2 separate regions of the Homo sapiens genome follow, and region 1 is linked to region 2. The links come from fine-mapping of genetic effects on gene expression. Tissue or cell type: whole blood. Region 2 holds a variant in brackets; the other region holds the start of a gene. All regions are shown on one strand. Distances are from middle to middle.

The links. PIP is the estimated chance that this variant, and not a neighbour inherited with it, causes the effect.
Region 1: PSMB3 starts here. The variant in region 2 is fine-mapped to the expression of PSMB3 in whole blood (INTERVAL, PIP above 0.99).

Annotation. Positions count from the first base shown.
Region 1 is chr17:38,750,334-38,755,479 of GRCh38, reverse strand. PSMB3 (proteasome 20S subunit beta 3) reads right to left here and starts at 2,739. Exons shown (of 6, transcript NM_002795.4): 1 at 2,651-2,739; 2 at 2,146-2,330. The coding sequence starts at 2,653. It overlaps TRN-GTT2-5 (tRNA-Asn (anticodon GTT) 2-5), which reads left to right and starts at 3,626; the gene lies at 3,626-3,699. LOC100287808 (a long non-coding RNA gene) reads right to left here. Exons shown (of 1, transcript NR_149004.1): 1 at 3,728-5,146. It also overlaps the pseudogene RNU6-866P.
Region 2 is chr17:38,827,993-38,833,138 of GRCh38, reverse strand. No RefSeq gene overlaps it. Among named protein-coding and RNA genes, the nearest start is that of MIR4727, 4.7 kb to the right of the region's middle. The variant AG/G (reference allele first, on the strand shown) is at 3,177.

The sequences.
Region 1 (5,146 bases), 78 kb after region 2:
TAGAGATGGGGTTTCACGGTGTTAGCCAGGATGGTCTCGATCTCCTGACTTCGTGATCTGCCCACCTTGGCCTCCCAAAGTGCTGGGATTACAGGCGTGAGCCACTACGCCTGGCCAGCAGCACATATATTAAAACTGGAATAATACAGGGAAGATTAGCAGAAGGATGACATGCAAATTTGTGAAGCGTTCCATATTAAAAATGTTTAGGCTGGGCGCAGTGGGTCACACCTGTAATCCCAGCACTTTGGGAGACTGAGGCGGAAGGATTGCTTGAGCTCAGGAGTTCAGCTGTGGGCAACATAGCGAAACCTTGCCTCTTACAATAACTACAAAAATTAGCTGGGCATGGTGGCACACACCTGTAGTCCCAGCTACTTGGGAGGGTGAGGTGGGAGGATCACTTGAGCCTTGGAGGCGGAGGTTGCAGTGAGTTAAGTTTATGTCACCAGCCTGGGTGACAAAAAAAAAAAAAAGGGGGCAGCACCAACTGCTGTGCTATGTGCTAACAGACTTGAAAGATGCCTTAGAAAAAGGCCATTTGGCAGCTCTGGTGAAAAAAGGAAAAAAGGTCACAGCTTGCCAGTTCCATCTCAGAGCCCCAGGATAGGCCCCTGCATAGAGCAGACCAATGCCACACCTGCTGGAGGAAAAGCAATGAGTCTCAGGACACCAGAGCAAAGAGACTTAGAAATGACTTGAGCTTCATCTTCCAGGTAAGGAAACTGAGGCCTAGTGAAATGAGCAGTCATTGCCCAGAAGGAAGCAAACGCAGTGAGAAAAGCCCTCTGAAGAAAAGGAAATGGTGTGAGAACAGCAGTGACTGCAGAAGGGAAGGCTCACGGGAGACTTCACTGACAGGAACCCCAGGATGTCATTCTCTGACTCTACCAGACAGGAAAAAAGGGCAGGCTGGGTGAGATCTCAGTAAGTGTTATGTTCTTGAGACTCAGGGAGTTTTAAGAGAAATGAGAACATTTTCTTTTATTCTTTCTTTTTTTATTTTGTTTGAGACAGAGTCTCGCTCTGTTGCCCAGGCTAGAGTGCAGTGGCACAATTTCAGCTCACTGCAACGTCCGTCTGTCAGGTTCAAGCAATTCTCCAGCCTCAGCCTCCCGAGTAGCTGGGATTACAGGTGCCCACCACCCAGCCTGGCTAATTTTTGTATTTTTAGTAGAGACAGCGTTTCACCATGTTGGCCAGGCTGGTCTGGAACTCCTGATCTCAAGATATCCGCCCACCTCAGCCTCCCAAAGTGTTGGGATTACAGGTGTGAGCCACCGCGCCCAGCCGAAATGAGAACATTTTCTGACAGGCATCCACCCACGCTTGTGAGCTAGTCTCTCCACCTTCTAGGAAACAAATCCAGGACCTGCTGCTCCTCAGGCACCAGTACCCTGCAGGACCTGCCCCCTGTGACCACGTATTCCCTCCTGAAAACCTATCACCGTTCTTTTCCTCTCTTATTCTTCTCTGGCTTCTCTTCGCCCCTCACTGCTAAATGTAACGTTCAGCTCTCAAACTGCCGCTCATTATTTCCCTCCCTACAGACTTTGTCTCTCCAGAATCTGCTCCCATAGATTTGGCACATTGCCAATGCTTCCCCAACCCTGAGATGTAATAACAAAACCCCAACTGCTTGCAAGATGTTTCTATTGGGCTTGTCTTGTCTGCTCAAAATTGTTGTCAAAATCAAAGTCAGGCCAGGTGTGGTGGCTCATGCCTGTAATCCCAGCACTTTGGGAGGCTGAGGCAGGTGGATCACTTGAGGTCAGGAGTTCGAAACTAGCCTGGCCAACATGGTGAAACCCTGTCTCTACTAAAAATACAAAAATTAGCCAGGCATGGTGGTGCGCGCCTGTAGTCCCAGCTACTTAGGAGGCTGAGGCACGAGAATCGCTTGAGCCTGGGAGGTGGAGGTTGCAGTGAGCTGAGATCATGCCACTGAGCTCCAGCCTGGGTGACAGAGCAAGTCCCTGTCTAAAAAAAAAAAAAAGAAAGGGAAGGACATGTTTTTTGGAGGCGGCAAAGTCTCAAACTCACTGGTGGTGTGTGGTAGATGACTGACACCTTGGCCGGTCAAGACGCCGGGGTTGGATGGTCCAAGAAGAGGCCTGGGTGTGGGCGGGGACCCTTGAAACTTACACTGTCTGGACGTCAGTGGCGAGCCCGGCCAGACCGATGTACAGCCGGTCACCCATGGGAAAGATCTTCTGGAAGTCCGTGGTCACCATCTGGGCCTGGATCCCGAAGCGCCTGTCTGCAGCGATGGCCACACAGTTCTTCCCCTTCATGGCCATGACGGCCCCTCCGTTATAGGACATAATAGACTAGGACAGACAGAGCGGAGGGGTCAGCGCGGGGGGTCAAACGCTGCCACAGCCCCCGGCCCAGCTCCTGATGCGGAGGCTCCTGTACGCCCGTTCTCCATTCCGGAGGCGTCTGAACCCCTGGTTCTCCAGCTGGGATGAGCACTGTGTGGCGGCAATGAGCCGCACTCACCCTCTTGGTCCTCACCGGGGCCCGCTCCCCTCGAACTGAAACCGCTTCCTTCCATCGACCCTAGGCCCTTTTCGTCCCCAAGCCTCTCCTGACCCCCTCCGCTTCTCAATCCTTCCCCATGCCCCTTTGCTTTAACTCCCCATCTCACCATGATTGCGGTGTACTAGGATCCCTCGATCGCCAGAGCAATTCCAGTAAACCGGGTCTAGCCTTCACTGCGCAACCGCTCTCACTGCTGTCTCTTCATTGGCTGATAGGCGGACTCTTCCTGGACATCTGGGCTTTCTATTGGTCACACGTCCCTGTCGGTCACCAGTACAGGTAGTTTGGTTGCAAAGTCAAAACGGAGGCGGGAAAAGCGGAAGTGAAAAGTCACTGTGGCTGCGGAAGAGACTTGCGACACGGTGCATAGTGGGATCTCGGCGGACCTGGACTCGGGACCTCAGGGACTGGGGGCGGAGCCTGCGCGCACGTGGGCTGGTGAAACTGGGTTTAGGAAGCTGCGGCCCCAGCTGAAGGGGCACCGTGACGCTTATCAACGTGATGTATGAGTTCGTCGTATTAGTCGTGCTAGCTTATTTATTCACTCCAGAAATCCTGCGTTTACTGTGTACCAGGCACTTGCCTAGGCTCGGAATATTCACTGGCCCACAACAGTGCCTAGTATATAGGAGGCGCCCATTAAATGGAAATTTAATGATGCAGGTGGGAAGGGGAAGGCGTCGCGTGTAGGCGTCGCGGGTATTTTGCGGCTGCAGGGGTTCAGCTGTGAAAGGGAGTTTGGAAGCCGAAGCTTGTTCTGATTTGGGGGACTTCCTGCGGCCCGACTTCACGTATCCTCAATCTCAGGTCACCCTAAAAAGGGACGTTCCGCGCCTCTCCACGTTTGAGGTAGAACCTGAGGATAGCCAGAGTCGACCTCTCGCCGTTCCAATGGAGGAAGGGCGTGCACGTCCCGCGTCCTCTCCTCCCAAGCTCTTTCGCCTCCCTCCCCCATCAGGATCCTTCCCTTTCTCCCCCGGGTTCCACTTATTTCGCCCGATGGCGGCATCTCTTACGGCGTCTGCGCCGTCCAGGCTCGCTCCCATTGACTCGGCTCACTACTACGCCGGTAGTCGACTCGGTCTCTGTGGCGCAATCGGTTAGCGCGTTCGGCTGTTAACCGAAAGGTTGGTGGTTCGAGCCCACCCAGGGACGCTATGACCTTTTTTTTTTTTTTTTTTGTCTTTTGGGTTTTTTTTTTCTCCCCGGAAGATAAAAACCTAAGCCTTTTACTCAAAAGCCAAATTTTGCATTGAAATGGCAGCAGCAATACTTTTTCTAGGAGAATCACTGTTCTTGAAAATTCTTTGCTGCTCAGTCAATAATGGGATAATTTCTCCAGCACTTCCCTCCACACCCCCCCAACCCGCCTCCAAGCTAGATCGCAGGAAACCTAAAGACACAGGTTTTTGTCTCACTGTGCATGCAACACGTTTCAGGATGCATTTTTTCATAGGATTAAGAATGAATTTACAGTGGAGGTTCGACAGTTTTCTATTGTCTGCCTCAATCGATATTACAGTCTCCAAATACTACATTTGGAAGGGAAGAGAATGAGAGAGACACAGAGAGAGAAACAAGTATGAAGAGAAACAAAGGTGAGAAAGGGAGAACATTGTTGTGATACAGGGAAAGAAGGGACGTGACAGAACTAGGCAGGGTGGGTAGGGGAAGACCTCAAGACAATGGAGAGTGGGAAAATAGACGCATTTAATATTAGAAGCATCAGAAAAAAAGGAAAACAACACATTTTTTCCCCCTAGAACTACACAGGGAGGTGGGGGAGGAAGATGGGGAAATAGAAGGAGAAACTGACTAAGGACCTTGTTTGGGGGAGATAAAAGGTATAAAGGACACAGAGGTAAAGACGTTCCGGAAAGCTCTAGAGGAGCCGCCCTCTCCTGTCTCGTCACCATTTTTAAAGGGATCTGATCCTCGCAATAGCTCTTGGTATATGCTGGAGGTAATTGCCTAGATTTCCCGCGTTCCTGTCCTCTGCGAGTCTCTGGCTTGTGACAGCCACTGTGACTCTTCTGATGCACTTGTCAGCTAGAGGACCGCGTGAGATGCAAACACAAAATCAAGGGGCGCCTAATGTCTGACGAGGCGCATTCCTGGGCGCAGTGGGAGCCTCGACCTTTGTGGAGGAGAATGTGCAAAGCACTCTTGAGCAGTTCTCATAGACACTTGGTCTCTGCAGATTCGGCTCAAAGGAGGCCTCTTCTGGAAGCCCACCCCAGTACTCACCCACCCTTAGCGGGAGCTCACACCAGAAGCGATGGGCGCTAAAGGGACAGGCTGTGTGTCCTTCAGGGTTTGCACCCACCGGCCTGTGAGCGCCCTGCGCAAAAGCCAGGCTCCTGTGCCTTGAGTTCCCAGTTCCTAGCGCAGTATTTGACACTGGCACATGACAGGTGCTTTCTATGTCGGCTAGTAGTAGAACAAAAGACTAGGAAACTCTTTCGATGTGGGAAGAGTTGGGTCAGAAGGTTCTCCTGAGAAACCAGAAAGGCCAGGAATGTGGAGACTAGTCATCCAGGACGCAAAAGATGAAAATGGAGTTTTAGTGGGTAATAGGGTCTTAGCACACTCCTCTCTAGCG
Region 2 (5,146 bases):
GCACTCCAGCCTGGGCAACAGAGTGAGACTCTGTCCAGAAAAAAAAAAAAAGTTCAAGACCAGCATGACCAATATGGTGAAACCCTGTCTCTACTAAAAATACAAAAAATTAGCCGGGCGTGGTGGTGCACGCCTGTAATCCCAGCTACTTGAGAGGCTGAGGCAGGAGAATCGCTTGAACCTGGGACGCAGAGGTTGCAGTGAGCTGAGATCGCGCCATTGCACTCCAGCCTGGGCGACAGAGCGAGACTTTGTCGAAAGAAAAAAAAAAAGGCTTGGTGCGGTGGCTCACGCCTGTAATCCCAGCACTTTGGGAGGCCAAGGCGGGTGGATCACGAGGTCAGGAGATCAAGACCATCCTGGCTAACACGGTGAAACCCTGTCTCTACGTAAAATACAAAAAATTAGCCGGGCATGGTGGTGGGCGCCTGTAGTCCCAGCTACTGGGGAGGCTGAGGCAGGAGAATGGCGTGAACCCGGGAGGCGGAGCTTGCAGTGAGCCAAGATCGCACCACTGCACTCCAGCCTGGGCGACAGAGTGAGACTCTGGGAAAAAAAAAAAGAAAGAAAGAGAGAAAAGGAAAGAAAGAGAAAGAAAGAAAAGAAGGAAAGAAAGAAGGAAGGAAGAATAGAAAGAGAAATAAAGAAAAGAAGGAAGGAAAGACAGAAGAAAGGAGAGAGAAGGAAAAGAGAGAGAGAGAGAGAAATGCCGGGTGCGGTGGCTCACGCCTGTAATCCCAGCACTTCAGGAGTCCGAGGTGGGTGGATCATGAGGTCAGGAGTTTGAGACCAGCCTGACCAACATGGTGAAACTCCGTCTCTACTAAAAATATAAAAATTAGCCGGGCATGGTGCCGTGCACCTGTAATTCTAGCTACTTGGGAGGCCGAGGCACCAGAATCGTTTGAATCTGGGAGGTGGAGATTGTGTGAGCCGAGATTGCACCAGCCTGGGCAAAAAGAGTGAGACTCTCTCTCCTAAAAAAAAAAAAAAAAAAGAGGCCGAAGCAGTGGCTCACGCCTGTAATCCCAACACTTTGGGAAGCCAAGGCGGGCTGATCATGAGGTCAGGAGATCAAGACCATCCTGGCTAACACGGTGAAACCCCGTCTCTACTAAAAATACAAAAAAATTAGCCAGGCGTGGTGGCGGGTGCCTGTAGTCCCAGCTACTTGGGAGGCTGAGGCAGGAGAATGGCATGAATCCGGGGGGCGGAGCTTGCAGTGAGCCGAGATCGCGCCACTGCACTCCAGCCTGGGTGACAGAGTGAGACTCCATCTCAAAAGAAAAAAAAAAGAAAAGAAGGAAAAAAGGAAGGAAGAAGGAAAGCAAGAAAAGGAAAGAAGGAAGGAAAGATAAAGAAAGAAAAGGAGAGAAAGATGGAAGGAAAGAAAGAAAAGAAAGAAAGAAGGAAGAAAGGAAAGAAAGAAGAAAGAGAGAAAGAAAAGAAGGAAAGAAAGTAGGAAGGAAGGAAAGAAAGAGAGAAAGAAAATGAAGGAAAGAAGGAAGGAAAGAAAAGAAAGAGAGAGAAAGAAGGAAGGAAAGAAAGAAAGAAAAGGAAGGAAAGAAGGAAGGAAGGAAAAAAGAGAGAAAAGGAGGCCAGGCGCGGTGGCTCACGCCTGTAACCCCAGCACTTTGGGAGGCCGAGGCAGGCGGATCATGACGTCAGGAGATTGAGACCATCCTGACTAACACGGTGAAACCCCGTCTCTACTAAAAATACAAAAAATTAGCTGGGTGTGGTGGTGGTGGATGCCTGTAGTCCCAGCTACTCAGGAGGCTGAGGCAGGAGAATGGCGTGAACCCAGGCCACTGCACTCCAGTCTGGGCGACAGAGCAAGACTCCCTCTCAAAAAAATAAAATAAAATAAAATAAGATGAAAAAGAATTGCTTATTGCTTAAATGGAAGGGGCATATGTCACATTCTGGGTGGTGTACTTCAGCTTTACATCTTTTTTTTTTTTTTTTTTTGAGAGAGGGTCTCGCTCTGTCACCCAGGCTGCAGTGTAGTAGCATGACCACGGCTCACTGCAGCCTGAAACTCATGGGCTCAAGTAATCCTCCTGCCTCAGCCTCCCCAGCAACTGGGACTACAGGCATATGCCACTACACCTGGCTAATTTTTTTTTTTTTTAACATAAGTAGAGAGGAGGTCTTGCTTTGTTGCTCAGGCTGGTCTCCAACTCTTGGGCTCAAGTGATTCTCCCACCTCAGCCTCTGAAAGTGCTGGGACTACAAGTGTGAGCACCGTGCCCAGCTTCACATCTTGTGTCTGTTTGTCCCAAGTGTGGGATGGGTACTGCAGGCATTTGCAATTTGACTGGAGATAGACAAAAACACTGAATCACAGAATTAAAAAAATTATTCCCTTTCCTATCCTCAGTAACTTAAGAAAAAAGTCGTTTAAAAAATTTTTTTTAAAGAGATGGACTCTCACTCTGTCACCCAAGCTGAACTACAGTGGCACAATCACGGCTCACTGTAGCTTCCAACTCCTGGGCTCAAGTGATCCTCCTGCCTCAACCTTCCAAGTAGCTGGGATTATAGGTATGTGCCACCATGCCCAGCACTGTACACTCTTTGAATAAAAGAGAGGGAGATTGGCTAGGCGTGGTGGCTCACACCTGTAATCCTTGCACTTTGGATTTAGAAGATTTAGAAGTGTTAGAGAGCTGGCACCAAATAAGAATTCCTCCTGTCAGGCACAGTGGTGGCTCCAGCCTGTAATCCCAGCTCCTCTGGAGGCTGAAGTGGGAGCATCACTTGAGTCTAGGAATCGAGATCAGCTTAACCAATATATTTAGACCCTGACCAACATATTGAGACCCATTTCAAGAAAAATAAAATGTATCTAGTTAGTGTTTAATAATGTCATATTTAGGCCGGGCGCGGTGGCTCACGCCTGTAATCCCAGCACTTTTGGAGGCCGAGGCGGGCGGATCATGAGGTCAGGAGATTGAGACCATCTTGGCCAACATGGTGAAACCCCATCTCTACTAAAAAATATAAAAAATTAGCCGGGTGTGGTGGCACGTGCCTGTAATCCCAGCTACTTGGGAGGCTGAGGCAGGGGAATCGCTTGAACCTGGGAGGTAGAGGTTGCAGTGAGCTGAGATCGTGCCACTGCACTCCAGCCTGGGGACAGAGCAAGACCCCATCTCAAAAAAAAAAAAAAA[AG/G]TCATTTTTAGTTTCCATTCTATTTATGGCAAGTAATACTGATTCTCTTTAATAGCTTTATTGATATAATTTACATGCCGTGCAATTCAGCCAACAAAAGCCTACAATTCAATCATTTTTAGTATATTCACAAAGTTGTTCACCCATCGATACAATCAATTTTAGCACAATTTCATCACACCAAACTGAAACTCCATACCCATTGGCAGTCAACTTCCTATTTCCTCCCAACCTACCCATCTCTAGGCAACCACTAATCTACTTTCTGTCTCTATTGATTTGCCTATTATAGAAATTTCCTATAAATGGAATGATACATGTGGTCTTTTGTGACTGGCTTTTTTCACTTAGCATACTGTTTTCAAAGTCTATCTATGTTGTAGCTCTTAACAGTACTTCTTTTTTATTTTTTTTTGGAGATGGAGTCTCACTCTGTCACCCAGGCTGGAGTGCTGTGGTGCAATCTTGGCTCGCTGCAACCTCCGCCCCCCTGTTCAAGCGATTCTCCTGCCTCAGCCTCCCAAGTAGCTGGGACTACAGGCATGTGCCACCACGCCCAGCTAATTTTTTGTATTTTTAGTTGAAATGGAGTTTCACTGTGTTAGCCAGGATGGTCTCGATCTCCTGACCTCGTGATCTGCCCGCCTCAGCCTCCCAAAGTGCTTGGATTACAGGCATGAGCCACCATGTGTAGCCAGTACTTCTTTTTTTATGGCCAAATAATATTCCACTGTGTGGATATACCATACTTTATCTATTCATCATCATCAGGTAATGGATATGTTTTGATTCTCTGCCCTACTTTATTTTTGAGACAGAGTCTCACTCTGTTGCCCAGGTTGGAGTGCAGTAGTACAATCTTGGCTTACTGCAGCCTCCAAATCCTGGGTTCTCAGCCTCCTGAATAGTTGGGATTACAGATGTGCACCACCACACCCAGCTAATTTTTTACTTTTAGTAATTTTTGTATTTTTAGGGTTTTGCAATGTTGGCCAGGCTGGTCTCCAACTCTTGGCCTCAAATGATCTGGCCATCTTGGCCTCTCAAAGTCCTGGGATTACAGGCATGAAACACCATGCCCAGCCTCCCCCATGTTTTAACTGGTATGAATAACGGCTACTATGAACATTCACGTACAAGATTTTGGCCAGGTGTGGTGGCTCACACCTATAATCCCAGCACTTTGGGAAGCCGAGGTGGGCAGATCACTTGAGGTCAGGAGTTGGAGACCAGCCTGGCCAACATGGTGAAACCTCCTCTCTACTAAAAATACAAAAAAATTAACCGGGTGTGGTGGTGTGCGCCTGTAATCCCAGCTACTTGGGAGGCTGAGGCACGATAATCGCTTGAACCAGTGGGGTGAAGGTTGCAGTGAGCCAAGAGCACAGCACTGTACTCCAGCCTGGAAGACAGAGCAAGACTCTGTCTCAAAACAAAACAAAATAAAAAGCCATTCATGGGCAATATTTTGTATTGATGTATGCTTTCATTTCTCTTGGGAGTATATACCCAGGAGTAGAAATGCTGGGTTATATGGTAACTAAGTTTAACCTTTTGAGGAACTGCCAGACTCTTTCCCAAAGCATTGCTTTTCTTTCCTTTTTTCTTCCTTTTATTTTTTTGTCAGACAGTGTCTTATTGTGTTGCCCAGGCTGGTCTCAAACTCCTGGGCTCAAGCAGTCCTCCTACCTCAGCCTCCCAAAGTGCTGGGATTACAGGCATGAGCCACTGTGCTCTGCTTGCTTTTCTTTATTTAATTAAATTAATTAATTAATTAAGTTTGAGGTGGAGTCTGGCTCTGTCACCCAGGCTGGAGTACAGTGGTGCAATCTCAGCTCACTGCAACCTCTGCCTCCTGGGTTCAAACGATTCTCCTGCCTAGCCTCCTAAGTACCTGGGATTACAGGCGTGCACTGCTACGCCCAGCTAATTTTTTTGTATTTTTAGTAGAGACGGGGTTTCGCCATGT